2 separate regions of the Homo sapiens genome follow, and region 1 is linked to region 2. The links come from fine-mapping of genetic effects on gene expression. Tissue or cell type: skeletal muscle. Region 2 holds a variant in brackets; the other region holds the start of a gene. All regions are shown on one strand. Distances are from middle to middle. Region 1 holds the start of HOOK1 (hook microtubule tethering protein 1). Region 2 overlaps FGGY (FGGY carbohydrate kinase domain containing).

What was found.
Region 1: HOOK1 starts here. The variant in region 2 is fine-mapped to the expression of HOOK1 in skeletal muscle (GTEx, PIP 0.99). The same link has a PIP of 0.9 or more in tibial nerve.

Annotation. Positions count from the first base shown.
Region 1 is chr1:59,811,836-59,817,218 of GRCh38, reverse strand. It overlaps HOOK1 (hook microtubule tethering protein 1), which reads right to left and starts at 2,270. Exons shown (of 22, transcript NM_015888.6): 1 at 2,039-2,270. The coding sequence starts at 2,101. LOC105378758 (a long non-coding RNA gene) reads left to right here and starts at 2,353. Exons shown (of 5, transcript XR_947426.3): 1 at 2,353-2,457. RefSeq lists an enhancer at 1,403-1,966 and a silencer at 2,203-2,802.
Region 2 is chr1:59,759,672-59,764,982 of GRCh38, reverse strand. It overlaps FGGY (FGGY carbohydrate kinase domain containing), which reads right to left. Exons shown (of 16, transcript NM_018291.5): 16 at 2,253-2,480. The coding sequence ends at 2,399. Among named protein-coding and RNA genes, the nearest start is that of MIR4711, 29 kb to the right of the region's middle. RefSeq lists an enhancer at 2,181-2,230. The variant A/GAA (reference allele first, on the strand shown) is at 2,345.

The DNA.
Region 1 (5,383 bases), 52 kb before region 2:
ATACAGTATGACTTTAACACGGAATAGTGGCTCTTTGTTCTCTGTTAAAAAAGGGGAATACTTCAGCAAGTTTATACATACAGAGAAAGGAGCCAATGGAGAGAAAGTAGTTGTAAATACAGAAAGGGAACAAATGATACAATAACGTTTTAAAAGAGGTGGAAGGGATGGAGTCTAAAGCCAGAGCCAAGGATAAGGAGGTGGTCATTTGCCCCAGAGGAATAAGAGTTGGGGGCTCAGGTAGAATACTGATAAAGGTTTGCTAAGAGGAATGTGAGAGAAACTGTCTGGTTATTCTTAAGTATGGGCAATGTTAGGAGAAAAGGTGCGTTTGACAGTAACAGCATTAGTAGAGGCAACAGTTTGCACGGTCATTCAATTTTCTCCACAGTGCTCAGCAGCCCAAGAGAGGACTGAAGAAAACGACCAATTTTACTCTGTTATCTGTGATTCCTTATCATTTGGTTTACAACATATTTGCAGCTTTTACGGAATTTTACCTTCCACTGTAATTACACACAGCTCTGGCTACCACTCCAGTCCTCCCCAGTGCCTAGCTCAACATTGGAAGTCAATAAATTCTGGTTAAAAGAGTGGATACAGTCACATAATATTTTAAAATATTACAACACAAAAGAAAATCCTGTGCTTCTCCACCACCTCACATGTAAATCAATGACATCATAAAGACTAAGCTTAACACTTCAGTCAATTGAGGTTTACAATAATGTAGCAGATTCGGATACACCCTTTAATTAGTCTGTTTTAACAAAACAAATCATTAAAAGTAATGTTGCCTTGTTTCTACGACAGTCTTAAATACAGCACTTCCACCCCAATACCTATTTCAAATGAAAATTCAGCTGAACAGTTAGCTAATTGCTTTTAACTCACAAACCCTAAATATTTGCATTCCACTAAAAGCAAAAGTTATTTACTTACAAAGTGTAAATGCTTTAAATTATGGCTATTTCCAATAGGCTTCACACATTTCCATAAACCTAGATTTCTCATTCTTTGGAATTAGATGCATTAGATCACTAGGGAATCTCAACCGATTACAGCCTCCTGATCCCGTCTGTTTACATTCCATCTGCACACACTCCCCTAGACGCAACTAAACAACTGGTTTGGGATGAGCATCATCAACAGCACCTTGTGGCTCATCAAACACCATCTTTACTCAATATGGGTTAAGAACCACACCTGAATGCCAGCACTGATATCTAAGTAACTCTAAGAGGTGGGATGTCATTTTGCTGACTGGAATATTGAACAATCTGGGGACAGATATGCCTGTCCAGACCCAACACAAATTAACAAAAATCCTAAACACAGATAAATCCTAAAGAAAAATGTCAACTCATTTTCTTTAAAGAAAATGCTGTCCATTTAGAGGAGGAGAGGGCCAGCGAGAAAAAGGGAAAACGACCCCCGACTCCCAACACATCTTTTTCTCCATACGGGAAATACAAACATCTCTTTGAAGCGGCTTCTACAAAATCGGATGTTCTAGAGTCCTGAAGGAGCATTGGTCCGGGAACTAAAACAGCCAGCCACCTCCTGGCCACCTGTGTCCAGGTAGAGCAAGGTAGTTTGAGGATGCAGGGTTAGGTTTCGGAAAGGGTCTTCACGCCCAAGCGGACCAAGGCAAGAGAGTCGGCGATCCAGAAAGTGGAGGGCTCGGGCGCTGTTCAGGGGGAGAAAATGGGGCAGCGGGGAGAAAAGAGGATGGGTGCTTGGTTCATATCCCAGCTGTTAGGGCACCAGGCAGGTCGAATCCTCTGGTTGAGACCAGAGCCTCCACTGTTACGCTCCCAGAGCTTCCTTTACCCCCACCCCCGGACACCAACCCGCGCCCACACACCTGCCCGTCGACCCGCAGGTGGCATTCTCTCGGTCAAGGGCACGAGGTGAGAAGGGCAGGGTGCGCCGGGACCCTGTGCAGGTAGCCCCAGCTCACCTGGGAGAACCGGGCGCCCCAGGCTCCTCGCCTCGGCCCCCTGGCCCCCTCGCCCTCTCGCCTCCTCGCACTCACCCAGATCATGAGGCTGTCGCACAGGGGCAGCTTAGGCTGCGGCGGCGGCTGCGTCTCCTCCATGGCCGGCGCCGCCGTCGACGACGCCGCGGACACCTTCACACTCCCTCCTACCGGCTCTCCTCCAGGAGCCGGCGTCCACGACCTGCTAGCCCCCAGGAAAGCTCGGTACCAGGCCCGACCCGCGCAGCTCACGCGCGAACCCTCGCGCTGTCGACGCGTCCGGCGTCACCCCCTCCTCACCCGCCCCCGCCTCGCTCCAGCGTTCGCCCCCTCCCCTTCCTGGGCCCCGGCCGCGCTGCCAGGCACCTGAGCCCCGCCTTCTCCCACCCCTCCCCTCCTCCCACCCGTCCTGCCCACTCCCGCACACCTCGCCCCGCCGCCCTGAGTGACCTGGCCGCGCACCAGTCACAGAGACGGTAGGTACCCGGGGGGGCGGGCGGGGCGGGGCGGGGGCGGGAAGAACCGGGATAGGTTGCGCAGGGGGGATTGCTGATTGGACGTGCCCTCGTGGGCTCTGGCCAATCAACGTGAGACAAGCCTGAGCCTTGGGTAGAGAGTGAGAGTGGGTGGGAAGAGGTTTATGACCTGGCAGGTGCAGTGAGGGCGGGGGTGGGAGGTTGCGCGCGGGAAGCGAGCGCGCGTGCGCGGCGGGGATTGGTAAGGCTGAAGCTCAGCCCCAGTGGCCGAAGAGGCAGAGGGGCAGCAGGGCACCGGCTGGGCTCAGGCGTCTTCCCTCCTTCTTCGCGGTAGCACGCCGCCTCGCTACACCTGTGGAGGGCCCACACTCTGCTTCCACATTGTCTTCAGAAATAGATCCTACCGGCTGGGCGAGGTGGCTCACGCCTGTAATCCTAGCACTTTGGGAGGCTGAGGCGGGTGGATCACCTGAGGTCAGGAGTTCGAGACCCGCCAGGCCAAGATGGCGAAACCCATTCTCTACTAAAAATACAAAGATTAGCCGGGGGTGGTGGCACATGACTGTAATCCCAGCTACTCAGGAGGCTGAGGCAGAAGAATCGCTTGAACCCGGGAGGCACAGGTTGCAGTGAGCCGAGATCATGCCACTGCACCCCAGCCTGGACAAAAAACCGAGACTCTGTCTCTAAAAAATATATAAAACAAAATAAAGAAAGAAAGAAATAGATCATACCCATGAATTAAAACTCTTCGAGGAAGGAAGAGCTGATTTCCTCCTAGGCACTCATTGGAAAGGGATGTTTTCATTTGCACACGTGGCAAATATGCCACATTAATAAGGAAAATAGAATCCGTCAGTGCTCCTTAAATAAGCTCTCACGGGACCATAGATCATGAGCAATTTTATTTTACATGGGGCAAAAGGGAAGACCGTTTTCAAGTAGCAAAATAAACGAAATGTTTTGAAAAACATGGAAGATATTAATGTATCCATTTTCCTTTGTCAGTTGAAAATTTGCTTTTTCCGAGAATGTTGTGGGGTGGAGGGGGGTCGGGGGAGGTGACCTGAAATTGGAAGCTCTCCAAGGTATTGATAGATGGCTTAGGTGATTGAAAAGGGCTAGACTATTCTTAGTCTTGCTGTCACTTCACTCATTCATAAACTCATCAATTCATGCTCTGAGTAAGAAAACAGCTGGCTTTTTTTTATATTGCTGCGTTTTTATATTTAGACACTGAAAATTTAAAACTGATGGACGACTGCAATTAAAAGCCCCCAAGTGTAAATCAGTCTCATTCTAAAAATACAGTATGTACGTTTGCTATTGACTCCCTTAACATTATTCCAGAACTTTCTTAACGCCTCTGGAGTCACTTTATATGCTGGAACTAGGTACATTGGTAATGTGATTTAATTAAAACTACAAGATTTAGGAATTGAAGACCTGGTCTGAATCTTGACTTTATTCCCCACTGGCTGCTCTCCTATAGCCCCCAACCTCCACATTCCTAAGATCATTGTAATTAAAATGTAAACATACATGGTAAATGTAAATTATAAACTTTGTAAATATGAGTTACTATTATCATCTATACATATGGGAAACTTCTCAACATATTTATCACTGAGAGCCACAAGTGACCAAATTTCTCAAATAAAATAATTCGTGAGAGTAACTTGGTGGGGGGGGCAATTAAGTTATGCTTCTGGACTTTATAGAGAGTAAATTATCAGGGAAGGAAAAATTTAACAATTTTTATCAAGAAACTTTAAAATATCCATATCATTTAAACCCATGATTCCAATTTATTCTGCGTCAGTCATAAATTCTGTTGAAATCATCAGAAGTGCATTTGGAGGCTTTGAACAATGATATGTATGGCAATGCTATGTATTGATCAATTGTATAATCGATTGATACAATGCCCAATAAGCAAGGAAGGCTAAATATTTTACAGCAGATTCAGTGCTCTGGAGAATATTTGATAACTCAGGAAAGTTGTCACAATGTATACTATTAAATAAAATTTAGATGAAAGTATCAGCCATATGACCTCAATATTATAAATATTAGGTATGTATTTTAATATATACACAGGAAGAAGACAAAGGAATAATCATAAAACTGTTGTTATATTTATATACAAATGAAAAATGACTATTTTTCTAATCTTCCATATTTTCTAGGCTTTCTACAATTAGCTTATATTACTTTATAATCAGAAAAAAAGACTTTAGAAGAAATGCCAAATACAACATAAGTTATCATTTCCAACTATTAAATTGGCATCAGTTCTTTAGAAGTTGGCATCCATGTTTGGGGAGTTGAGTGAAACTAACTCTTAAACCCTAGCTGTGGGATTATAAATGGGTACAAAGTTTTTTGACAATATATATCAAGAGCCTTTAAAATGTTCAAAGTCTTTAAGCCAGTAAGTTCACTTTCAGAATCTATTCTAAGAAAATAATCATATGCCAACAAAGTTGTTGATTGCAGTACTATTTATCAAGCAAAAAGGAAAAGAAACAGCTATTAAATGTCTGAAAGAGAAGTGATTAAACACAGTAAGTTATATTTAAACAATGAAATGTATCATAGGCATTAAAATATTTTAAAATAAGTTTATTCAGGAAAATGCTTATCACATAATGTTAAGAAAAAAAGCCATTATGCAATCTGTGCATACAGCATAGATCCCAACATATACATAAATATATGGGCCAGGTGCAATGGCTCAAGCCTGTAATGCCGGCACTTTGGGAGGCTGAGGTGGTGGGAGGATCACTTGAGTCCAGGAGTTTGAGATCAGCCTGGGCAACATAGAGAGAACCCGTCATTACCTTGAATAAATAAATAAATAAATGTATGTATGTAAATATATATTTATGTGTGGATCCCTATTTGGGTGTGCCTGGGTGTGTGT
Region 2 (5,311 bases):
ACTCGGGGCTATGCCTAAGGTCCCTATATCCTTTGGATACTGTAGAATGCTATTGCAGAGCTGACCTTCATAACTGGGGTGCTCACCCTTCTCCATGCTTACTACAGTTACTATTTTGAGCATCTTCTAGGAGCAGAGCCCTGTAATAACACAGGCATGGACCATGCAATTGAGCCGAGTGCTTTATATGCATTATCTCCTTTAGTCCTCATTATAATCCTGTAAAGTAGGTACTATTAACATATTCAGGCCAGGTGCGGTGGCTCACGCCTGTAATCCCAGCACTTTGGGAGGCCGAGGCGGGCGGATCACGAGGTCAGGAGATCGAGACCATCCTGGCTAACATGGTGAAACCCCCGTCTCTACTAAAAATACAAAAAATTAGCTGGGCGTGGTGGCGGGTGCCTGTAGTCCCAGCTACTCGGGAGGCTGAGGCAGGAGAATGGCGTGAACCTGGAAGGTGGAGCTTGCAGTGAGCAGAGATCAAGCCACTGCACTCCAACCTGGGCGAGAGCAAGACTTCGTCTCAAAAAAACAAAAACAAAAACAAAAACAAAAAAACCAACAACAACAACAACAAAAAAAACATATTCATATTCAATACCTATTCATTTCAAAATGAGGAAACTGAGACTTAGGAAGATTAAGGACCTTTCTCCAAGTCACCCATCTAGTAAGAGGTAAGACCAGGCCTAGGATCCCAGGCCAGGGCTCATAGCTGTTACACCATATTGTTTTTCATCCCACCTTCTCCTTCCTCCTTTTCTGACTGATGGGCTCCATGCAGCAGGTACTTTTTTTTTTGTAATTGTAGCATTTCTCATAATGTACTGTCATCAATCTATTTGTCTATGTCTCTCATTAAACAGGGAGGTTCCTGAAGGCAGGGGCCATGTCTTATTTATTCCTGTAGACCAGTGCTTACCACAACATGTGGCACAAAGTACTCCAGAGGATGTTTATTTACTGAATTATATTGGCTTTTTCTTCTCTACCTGCTGTCTTTTGCTGAAGTCTTAGCATGTCCTCTACCCACACTCATTTGAGCTATGACAGCTCTCAAATCAACGTTAGCAGTTACTCTTGGGTCTGAAATTATGTGTGGGTGTTGACATATTTATGTATGTATATGTATGTGTATGTCTGTGTGCGTTTGTGTGTCTGCTGTGGTATCAACTAAAACAGCTAGTTTTCCCAGTGCTTGTCTACATCAAAAGCTTTTAGCCATCAGGTTTCTTCAGTTTCCTTTAATCTGGAAACTTCCCACAGCCTTTCTTTGTCAGTATGACATAGATATTTTTGAAAAATATAGTCCATTAAAAAATAAAATGCTTCCCATGTTGCGTTTGTCTGATGTTTCCTTCTGATTAGATTCAGGCTCTGCATTAAAATGCTCTTTCTTTTCTCATATCTGGAGGCACACAATGTCCATTTGCCCATCTGAAGTTGATTTGGATCACCTAATCAAGATGTTGTCCTATTTCTTCCCTGTATACTTAACGTTCTTTTTCCTCTTGTAACTAATAAGCAAATTCTGAAGAGATATTTTAAGATTATGCATATATCCTGTTATTCTTCAAAATTCCCTCCTGGATCCATCGATGATTCCTGCCTATACCTGTCTTTAATATGATGATTGTGAAATTACAATTCTGCAAATAAATGTGGTATCTGACCCTAGACTAGATCCTGCACAGGAGGGGAAAATGCCATAAAAGACATCGACTATGCATTAGATGTCCTACCTAAAGTAATGTAAGTTTTTCATTTAATAGCTGACATTTAATTGATTAAAAAGTACAGGCCTGGCCGGGCGCAGTGGCTCATGCCTGTAATCTCAGCACTTTGGGAGGCCGAGGCGGAAAGATCACGAGGTCAGGAGATCGAGACCATCCTGGCTAACATGGTGAAACCCTGTCTCTACTAAAAATACAAAAAATTAGCCAGGCGCGGTGGCGGGCGCCTGTAGTCCCAGCTACTCAGGAGGCTGAGGCAGGAGAATGGTGTGAACCTGGGAGGCGGGGTTTGCAGTGAGCCGAGATCGCTCCACTGAACTCCAGCCTGGGCGATAGAGCGAGACTCCGTCTCAAAAAAAAAAAAAAAAAAGTACAGGCCTTCCCTGGATTGAATAGCCCCCAAGGTCTAGTCTCATGTGAGATCCTATGACCCTATGTGAAACTTCTGTTACTATAATGGAGACTGTATGGAAACTGAAACTAAATAATAGCGGTATTTTGAAATGAAGACTCTAATTCTGGTTGCACATGTTTGTTTTCTTTATTGAAAGACAATACAGAAATGATGAAACAATACCTCAAGGGTCTTGAACATGGATCAAATGACA[A/GAA]GTCTTTAATGCAATGGCACAGAAGCTTCTGGCATCAGCACCTGCAAGCCCTGTTCAGTCATCATTCATGATCGCCAAATACTCCTTCTGGTGTTCAACCAGCTTCAGGAATACTTGGTATTTCTTATCATAGTATCTGTGGGAGAAATATAAATATGTTGAATGATCTCAAGACAAAACTGCCACAGGGCTTCCCTGTACATTTAGAAGAATGGAAATATATGTGTGGTGGTGATGCTGACACCTAGATTCTGAATGCTTACAGCATCCTGGGCAATGAATTAGCATGTTTCAGACCTATTATATGTGACCTGGATGAAGTTTTATTATCTCCAATTTAGAAATAAGAACATTTAAACCCCATCTCTTAAAAATACAAAAATTAGCCAGACATGGTGGTGGACGCCTGTAATCCCAGCTACTCAGGAGGCTGAGGCAGGAGAATTGCTTGAACCCGGGGGGCGGAGGTTGCAGTGAACCGTCCCCCGTTCACTGTGAAGTGGTTGAGTTGCACCACTTCGCTCCAGCCTGGGTGAAAGAGCCAGACTCCATCAAAAAAAAAAAAAAAAAAATTCCTAAATGAGAGGCATATACAAAGTAGTATAGATAAAAACTGGCAGAGCTGGAATTCAAACTCATGTCTGTCTGACTTCAAAGCTTCTACTGTATATACAAAAAGGCCGGACTTAATGGAGACTCTTTCACATTGCCAGCTTCAATAAGTATTTCCTATATAACTAGCCCCAGGTTTGATGACTGGCCTAAAATCACAGCCTGACCAAGGACAAAGACTGAACATTTTAATTGCCCTTTTGCAGATTCCACATCTAGGTTTCCCTTGTGACCTGCTTTATCCAGGAGCAAAACCCCATGGAAATGTAGCTAATGCCTTTTCTAGAGCTGTGCTCGCCTTCCAGACATCTCACAGTGGCCGTTGCTCTCCCTGTCCTATCTGGCTGACTCTTTGGGTTAGACCTGTTAGAACTGGTATTGGCCATGAATCAGACAGCAGAACAGCTGAAGCTGCTCTGGCATCATAATCCTGAAAGGAATAATAGGAACCGAGACAAATTATACTTGCAGCCTTGCAACTTTGTCCTTACTCCTCTTGGTTGGGAAGCTGACATGGGGTGAGGGGGTGAAGAAGCCAGTTTAGCATGTCTTGCTCAATTCTGGGGTGCTCTGAAAAGGAGTCCTCATGATGAAATTTTGGTGCAAAGTTGTGCATTGGCAGAGAGAGGTTGTAAGAGTAACCTTGGATACACACAGGGACTTCTACTTGTCACACATAGCTATGTTAGTAGGAGTCCCCTACCCAATATTTATTAGACTGTAAGCATTCTGGTAACGTAGGAGTTGTGACGGGGCCAAGCACAGGGTTAAAAGGCGAACTCCAAAGCCTGGGTTGGAATCTTAATGTGGCCTAACATTAGCTGTGTGACTTTGGATATGTTACTTAAACTATTTCTGCCTAAATTTCTCCATCTGTAAATGGGGATAATTATGGGATCTACTTCAGCAGAGCTGTTGTAGATTAAATGTGGAAATAAATGAAAAGCATTTAGAACAGTACCTGACTCATAATAAGTGATATAAATGCTAGTTACTAAATTTTAGATAATTAATATTTTAATATCATCAATATAGCTATATGTAGGTACTACTAAGACCTACTCTATGAGCATCCAAATTTATTAGTTGTAGAATTATTTTAGGAACAATTTGCTCCTACTAATGATGCTCTGTGACAATATAACGGTAAGGAATTCTTTCACTACATGAGATAGATTTCTTGACTTTAGAATCTCAAAATATCTAGAAGGGAGCTAAGGTGAGCACCCCTTCACACACACTTGATTTACAATGTTAATACTGACAACTTTGCCACAACTTTGTGCACTGGCCTTATTCTTTACATAGGTGGAATCATGCAGTATTTGTCTTTTTGTGGTTATCTTATTTCACTTAGAATAATATCCTCAAGGTTCACTGATGTGTGGCATGTCAGAAATTGCTTCTTTCTAAGGCTGAATAATACTCCATTGTATGCACATATCATTCTTCATTTATATGTTCATCTACTAATGAACACTTAGGTTGCTCTCATGATTTTCGCTATCATGAATAATGTTGCTGTGAACATGAATGTAGAAATATCTCTTCCATACCCTACTTTCAGTTCTTTTGGGTATATACTCAGAAATACAATTCCTGAATCACATGTTAATTCTATTCTTAATTTCTTGAAGAATGGCCATAGTGTTTTCTGCAGCAGCGATACTATGTTACATTCTCACCAACTATGCACAGAGCTTCCAATTTCTCCACATCCTTGCCAACATTTGTTGTTTTCTGTTTTAAAATAGTAGCATCCTAATGTGTGAGGTGGTACCTCACGGTAGTTTTGATTTTCCTAATAGTGCTGTTGAATACCCTATCACGTGCTTACTGGTCATTTATAAATCTTCTTTGGGGAAATATTCATTCAAGTCCTTTGCCCACTTTTGAATTGGGTTGTTTTTGCTTTTTTGTTGTTGTTGAGTTTTAGGAGTTCTTTATACATTTATATATTCTGGATATCAATCCCTTACTGGATGTATGATAAGCAAATGTTTTCTCCCATTCTGTGAGTTGCCTTTTTACTCTGTTGATAGTGTCTTTCAATGCACCAAATTTCTCAAAGCACATTTAAGTGACTCTTCCAGAGCCACATATAAATTTGGACTGAACATAATAATGCAATTTGGGGTCATCCTAAACATTTATTATTAAACTATAGTCACTAAATTACACTCTCCGTGACTGTGAATTTTAAAATCAGCTGAATCCCCTCTCTTCAAAATGTGCCTCAACTCAGTCCCTGCTTCTGTGTGGCAGAGGCCTAAGTAAATGTCGTCCCACATCGTTAACAGTGTGATCTATTAGGCAATGAGATGAGGTTGGCTCAGAAGGAAACTGGCTTCTCCT